Homo sapiens: one gene and its partner. The protein of the gene in region 1 purifies or fractionates together with the protein of each later gene. This does not show direct contact. Each region holds a gene or a part of one and is shown on either strand. Other genes may lie near its edges. The genes, in order: RAB17 and GTPBP1.

Evidence for each region.
Region 2: the proteins of RAB17 (region 1) and GTPBP1 purify together in Homo sapiens (affinity purification with mass spectrometry; 3 studies listed by BioGRID and IntAct, with this or other methods). This does not show direct contact.

What each region holds. Positions count from the first base shown.
Region 1 is NC_000002.12:237,577,180-237,580,948, reverse strand, and holds part of RAB17 (ras-related protein Rab-17), read left to right. Parts: intron 1-2,793; coding exon 2,794-2,945; intron 2,946-3,566; coding exon 3,567-3,692; coding exon of another isoform or gene 3,693-3,769. UniProt on the Homo sapiens protein: The small GTPases Rab are key regulators of intracellular membrane trafficking, from the formation of transport vesicles to their fusion with membranes.
Region 2 is NC_000022.11:38,719,377-38,723,191, forward strand, and holds part of GTPBP1 (GTP-binding protein 1), read left to right. Parts: intron 1-2,365; coding exon 2,366-2,489; intron 2,490-3,167; exon of another isoform or gene 3,168-3,815. UniProt on the Homo sapiens protein: Promotes degradation of target mRNA species. Plays a role in the regulation of circadian mRNA stability. Binds GTP and has GTPase activity.

The DNA of each region.
Region 1 (3,769 bases):
GGCCCACCTGAGGGCCTTACATCTCTGCAGGGAAGGGAAGGGTCTATGTTCTGTAAATAGCCAAACATTGACTATTATTATGCATTATCATTGCTTGGACTAAAACCCATGCCCTCCTTGGAAATTTGCTGGAATTTTACATTAGTGTAAATTCAACCACCAGCCATCATTTTCCCTCCCCTCCTCCCCCCCCTTCTTTTTTTGAGGCAGAGTCTCACTCTGTCTCCTGCTGCCCAGGCTGGAGTGCAGTGGCACAATCTTGGCTCGCTGCAACCTCCACCTCCTGGGTTCAAGCGATTCTCCTGCTTCGGCCTCCCGAGTAGCTGGGACTACAGGGGCATGCCAGCACACCTGGCTAATTTTTGTATTTTTAGTAGAAACAGGGTTTCACCATGTTGGTCAGGCTGGTCTTGAACTCGACCTCAAGTGATCTACCCACCTCGGCCTCCCAAAGTGCTGGGATTACAGGCATGAGCCACTGTGCCCAGCCTCCAGCCATCATTTTCAACATGGAAAAGGAAAATATGAGAGGCTAAGATTGGTAAATGGAGGAAGAAAACCTGAATTTTATGCTCACGTTTCACCCTGCGCCAGCTTTTAAGATAAAACCAAATTCAAACTGAGAAATGTGATTTGAAGTGATGGGAAACAGAAAGATGTGGATAAAAGGCCCACGTTTTAAGACAACAAGTCCACAAAGAGCAAAGAGGACAGAAAGAAGAAGCAAAATTCATATGCCCTTTCTCTCCTTGCTCAGGCGATTTAACAGCCACCCTGGGTGAAGGGCACCATTAGCTCCTGCTATGGATGAGGAAGCTGAGACTTAGAAAGTTTAAGCAAGCTGCCATCAGATCAGCTGATGGGTGTACATTTATATTCTGGGCACGGTCTTCATTCTGGCACCATTGTCAATCCAGTGGAGCATCTGGTGTGTTCAGAGGTTTATAGCCGGTTCAGTCCCGACAGTTGCCCCATCTAAGCTGGAAATCACTGGTCCTACTGTCTGGATGGAGACTGCAGCTTTGTTTGACCTGGGGAGTTGGTCTGACTTCAAGTTCCTGGACCTGCAGGGAACTGCAGGACATGCGGGCAGAAGAGCCCAGGCAGTGGTTTCCGTTTAGGAAGAGGTTGTCTCATGATAGAGAAGCACGGTCTTGCTGCACCATGCTGGAAAGCTCTGTCCAGCCTCCTGTTCTCTGTCCAGCCTCCTGTTCTCTGTCTAGTGGGTGCAATTGAGTTTCTCCCACCCGTAAAGAGGCGATTAAGTCCTAACCCCCGGAACCTGTGAGTGCGACCTTATTTGGAGAGAGGGTCTTTGCAGATGTAATTAATTAAGGCCAACAAGATGGAACTTAGGATAGCCCTTAAGTCCAGTGACTGACATCCTTATAAGAAGGGGAGAGGACACAGCCACAGAGGGGCAGCCACGTGAAGACAGAGCCAGAGATGGGGGTGATGCAGCCACCAGGAACACCAGGGTTGCCGGCAGCCCCTGAAGCTGGAGGAGGCCTGGAATGGATTCTCCTTCAGTCTCCGGAAGGAACCAACCCAGCCAACGCATCAGTTTTGGACCTCTGGCCTCCAGAACTGCAGGAAGAAATTTGCTAATTTGAGCCACTCGGCTCATGGGACTTTGTTTTGGCAGCCGCAGGACACTCATGCACTGTCCTTGGAGTGTAAGTTTTTATTTTAAACATGTGGCTCCATTTGCCAGAATCTCCCCAACAGACCCCAAACCCAATCCAGGGTCTAGGCAGGGTAGCAGCTTTGACAGGAGCCTGTCGGTGCTGGTGGCTCCTCCATGCCCCAGACACCTTGCCTTCCCCCGCCCCGTCCTCTCCAGTTCTGTGTATAACACATTCCTGACAAGCCACACACAATGGGGCAAAACATTTTGGAGATCTATAAAATAACCATTTTAAAATCATATAACTTTGGAAAGCAAAGGGTAGAAAATCTTTAAATGAACAGTGCATTGCCCAATATGTTAAAGTGCTTGGGAGTAGTTGTGTGTGTGTGTGTGTGTGTGTGTGTGTGTGTGTGTGTGTTAAGCAGGTACATGGCTGAGTAAGACAAAGCCCCTGCCTTCCTGGGGGAGACAGGTGGAGAACGCAGGAGGCCTTGCCTCTGGGTGTGTATGGGGTGCAGGGAGGCTTCCGTGGAGGCAGGGGGCCCAGCAGCCCTTCCGGGGTTGCCGCTGGAAGATCTCAGAGGATGCCTAAGAGTTTTCTAGGTGAACAAGAGGAAGGATACCATGCAGAGGGGACAGTAGAGAAGGGTGTTGGTGGGGAGCAGCATTGGGAAAGTGGGGAGGTTAGCAGGAGGCGAGGAAGGCCTTGGAGGAGCCTATGCAATCGTGACTGCCTCTGTGCAAGATGGGTCTGGCAGGCGAGGGGCCGGTAGGCCGGGGGTGCCCAGGGCTCTAGGGGTTCCCAGAGCCCAGCTGCATCGCTGGAAGCTGGCAGGGATGCATCGGACTCCCAGTAAGTGGAGATCCCTTTCACGGCATATGTAGCCCAGAGCTTTTGTATTAGGTCCTGGAGAGATTTATCTTCCCATCCAAAGCCTCTCCAAAGGCCCCATAGCAATCACTCCCAACACTTTGCTCGATGTGGAAGGCTCCATCTCCCAGAAGAACTGTTTGCTCAACCTCCTGGCCATGCGGGCGTGGGAGATGCATGGCCAGCTGTCCCTCTGAGCCCATTGCTGTGCCTGCGGCTTGCCGTGGTCCCACCTGAGCCGCATGTGGCAACCTCGTCCTCTGAGTAAGCCCTCTGGGCCTCCCTGTTTCAGGTGCGTTCTTCACAAAGGTGGTGGATGTGGGTGCCACCTCTCTGAAGCTTGAGATCTGGGACACAGCTGGCCAGGAGAAGTACCACAGCGTCTGCCACCTCTACTTCAGGGGTGCCAACGCTGCGCTTCTGGTGTACGACATCACCAGGAAGGTAGGGCCCGCCTTGAGGCACGTCCCACCCTCCTTCCCAAGCACCTGCCTTCTGGTTTCTCCAGTGCAATGATGCCATGGCGTAATCACAAGGAACAGAGACTCCATTAGTGAGCAACAGTCACCTCCTCCAGGATGGCCTCCTGACAACCCCCCATCCTCCTCCACAGTGGGGTTCTGCTCCTCCGTGGTCCACAAAGAACATGCCGTTGCCATCTGCCACTCAGTAGTTCCTGGTGCTGCATTAGGGTCAGGGTTTGGGGTGGTGGCCAGTCCCCCAGACTCTCTTGCACAAAGTGGTCCTTTGAGGACAGCTAGGCGTGGGAGATTCAGGAGCTCGAGGCCTGACCTGAAATACCCCGTGGCTGGCAGTCTCCTGGGCCTGGTCAGGGTGAAGGATCTGATGTGTGTCCTAGCAGTTTTCTGCCTGGCCGCACAGGTCACCCAGGACAGGAACGTGCCCTCCTCAGAGGAACGGAGCAGCCCTGCAGGTGCGCCCATGGCCAGTTGGATTCTGTGACATTTTACACAACGTGATCAGCAACACTGGCTTCCCCCTCCCGGAATAGCTAATGACCACCTATAAGTTTTGTTTGATGTTACTTTTTTTCTTCTTTTCTAGGATTCCTTCCTCAAGGCTCAGCAGTGGCTGAAGGACCTGGAGGAGGAGCTGCACCCAGGAGAAGTCCTGGTGATGCTGGTGGGCAACAAGACGGACCTCAGCCAGGAGCGGGAGGTGACCTTCCAGGTACCGCCCAGGAGACCCTGCTCTGCTCTTCCACAGCAGGAGAGAGCCCTGCCCGCCTGTGTCAAGACCTTGGCACT
Region 2 (3,815 bases), on another chromosome or scaffold:
AGTTCACTATAACCTCAAACTCCTGGGCTCAAGGGATCCTCCCATCTCAGCCTCCCAAGTACCTAGGACCACAGGCGTGCACAACCATGCCTGGCTAATACTAATTTTTTTAGAGACGAGATCTTGCTATGTTGCCAAGGCTGGTCTCAAAACTCTTGGCTTGAAGTAATCATCCCACCTTGGTGCCTCCCAAGGTGCTGGGATTACAGGTGTGAGCCACCGTGCCCAGCCAAGTATATATGTTTAGTTTGGTTTTTTTTTTTTGTGGCTGAATCACTTAAAAATAGTGGACATGTCTTCATCCCAGACAAAGTCACAATGTAGACATTGTGACTTTTCACTGCTAAACACTTCAGCATACAGCTCCTAAAAGTGAGGCCTGTCTCCTACTGTTTTTACAATCAAGAAAATGAAGAATAGTTACCTAATATCCTCAAATATTTAGTCTGTATTTATATTATTTCAGATGTTTCCCAAATATCTTTCAGCTGCTTTTTTTAAGCCATGAATCAGTCACCAGTTATCCCCCACTGCCTTTTATTTTCTTTCTTTCTTTTTTTTTTTTTTTTTGAGACGGAGTCTCGCTCTGTCGCCCAGGCTGGAGTGCAGTGGCGCGATCTCAGCTCACTGCAAGCTCTGCCTCCCGGGTTCATGCCATTCTTCTGCCTCAGCCTCCCAAGTAGCTGGGACTACAGGCGCCCGCCACGATGCCCAGCTAATTTTTTGTATTTTTAGTAGAGACAGGGTTTCACCATGTTAGCCAGGATGGTCTCGAGCTCCTGACCTCATGATCTGCCCGCCTCGGCCTCCCAAAGTGCTGGGATTACAGGTGTGAGCCACCGCGCCTGGCCTTTATTTTCTTTGAGATGGAGTCTCACTCTTGCCCAGGCTGGAGTGCAATGGCGCAATCTTGGCTCACTGCAACCTCCGCCTCCTTGGTTCAAGCGATTCTCCTGCCTCAGCCTCCTGAGTAGCTGGGATTACAGGCAACTGCCACCACATGCAGCTAATTTTTTTTTTTTTTGTATTTTTAGTAGAGAAGGGGTTTTCACCATGTTGGCCAAGCTGGTCTCGAATTCCTGACCTCAGGTGATTCACCCACCTTGGCCTCCCAAAGTGCTGGGATTATGGGCATGAGCCACCATGCATAGCTGAACACTCACCTCTTTTTATGATAGCATTCTATATGCAACTTACTTTTTTTTTCCCCTTAAAAGCATATTTTGGAGATTAGTCCATATCAGTAGATAAAAATTTCTTCTTTTGTACAGCACATTTCATACACGTGCCCTGATTTATGTAACCAGTCCTTACGGTGATATTTGGAAACATTTATTGTTACTGGAAGGATAGTAATAGTAATAACAGGTGCAATTGCTTAAACACCTAGTTCCTGCTAGTTGTGTGCTGGACACTTCATGTGTGTTGTGACATTTAAACATCAAGTGACCCTCTGAAGTGGATATTGTTATCTCCCCATTTTACAGATGGGGAAACTGAGGGCCAGTGATGTTAAGTTGAATCCACTTTTTGTTGTTGTTGTTTATGAGACACAGTCTCGCTCTGTCACCCAGGCTAGAGTGCAGTAGCTCGATCATGGCTCACTGCAGCCACAACCTCCCAGGCTCAAGTGATCCTCCCACCTCAGCCTCCCAAGTAGCTGAGACTACAGCGTATCCTGCCACACCCAGTCAATTTTTCTTTTTTTTGTAGGGTGGGGGAAACAGAGTTTCGCTCTTGTTGCCCAGGCTGGAGTGCAATGGCACGATCTCGGCTCACCACAACCTCCACCTCCCAGATTCAAGCGATTTTCCTGCCTCAGCCTCCTGAGTAGCTGGGATTACAGGCATGTGCCACCACGCCTGGCTAATTTTGTATTTTAGTAGAGACAGGGTTTCTCCATGTTGTTCAGGCTGGTCGCGAACTCCCGACCTCAGGTGATCCGCCTGCCTTGACCTCGCAAAGTGCTGGGGTTACAGGAGTGAGCCACCGTGCCCAGCCTTAATTTTTGTATTTTTTTGTAGAGACGGAGGTCTTACCAGGTTGTCCTGCCTGGTCTCAAACTCCTGGCCTCAAGTGATCTGCCTTCCTTGGCCTCCCAAAGTGCTGGGGTTACAGGCATGAGCCACTGCTCCTGACTTGGATTCATTTTGATGGCTCAGGACAGTTGTTTCCCTGACTGGGTTTATCTTTTTTATTGTTTGCAAGTCTCCTCCGATTTTGACGCCCCACATCATCGAGTCAGGGGTTAACGTGATTTTTGCCCAGCCCAGCTTTCATCCACATCTGCTTTTGAGCCCCTGTGTCCACCCAGCAGCAATCTCTTTCTCTCTCGTCCTGACACTTCCTTTCTGTGTTGGGGCAGGTGGGCAGCAATGCTGGCATCGTGGGGATGACCAAAGAACACCTGGGCTTGGCACTGGCACTCAATGTACCTGTCTTTGTGGTAGTCACCAAGATTGACATGTGTCCTGCCAACATCCTGCAAGGTAAGTGAAGCCTCCAGCTAGCAGCAGCCCCTCTGATTGGGGCTGTCACCTGCTGTGCCTTCAGGTGGTCTGCTACCACGGCTTTAGCCCAGAAACTTCTTTTCTTTTTTATTTTTATTTTTTTATTTTACAATATGTTTATTTTTATTATGTGCTCTACATTGAACACTTCAGCAAAGAAAATAATTATAATAATTTCAAAATGCAATCCCTGGATCCAATAACTATCCTTTATAATCCGTTACACTGGTCAGTATCTAGAAATATATGTAGACAAAGTTAGCTAATGAATAAAATAAGTAAAATGACTAGGTAAACTATAAATTTCAAGCATGAGGGATCATGCATGATCAGTTAAGTCACTCTGCCACTTTTTAAAATAATATTCACATTTGCTTCAATCACATAAACATTCATTGCAGGAGTTAAATTTGACTGCTGATAACAATTGAAAGCTGTGATCTTTGTTAGCTTAAAAGAAAATTCAGCTTAATACAAAGACATTCAAGATGAAAATTTCAGGACCCTTGATCAGAAGCTTTCAATGTGTGTTGCTCCACTTTGTTGTAGGCAAGCTTCAAGTAAGGCTAAGACAGAAGAGTGTTTCTACTGAAGATGTGATCTAAGAATTGCCTTCTACAGAGGCGAATTATATTCTGTAGAAACTAGCTAGCCACCAAGATGTTACCAATAAAGGATTCCTTATACTAGCAACTAACCATGTTTAAAAGGCCTTAGCCATTTAGAGTAATATTTATGAGTACAAGCATAATTGGTTCCTTGCCTTCTACAGATAATCATCTATAAAATGATAAAAGCAGGCTTCAACTGTGTTTCTTCTCTGGGGTGAGAAGGTGCAGATACACATGGGTGATCTACTGATTTACCTTCTGAAAGTACTCTTTGGAAGCAGCTGGATTTGGCTTGATTGTAGGAGAATCCAGTGTCCAGTTTGCTGGGCAGACTTCTCCATGGGTTTCTACATACTGGAACGCCTTCACCAAGTGGAGGGTTTCTTCCACGCTTCGGCCCACTGGGAGGTCATTGACGCTCAAGTGCTTGATGACTCCATTGGGGTCAGTTATGAAGAGACCTCTTAGTGCAAGACCAGAACCTTCTAACAGCACACCGTAGTCTCAGGAAGTTTGCTCAAATCTGACAAGAGTGGGATGTTCATGTGGTCCAAACCACCATTATTTCTTGGTGTATTTATCCAGGCAAGATGACTAAAGTGGGAATCCACTGAGACCACAACTTCACAGTTCACATCATGAAATTCCTTAGCTTTGTCACTAAAAGCAACAGTTTCTGTAGGACCACGAAGGT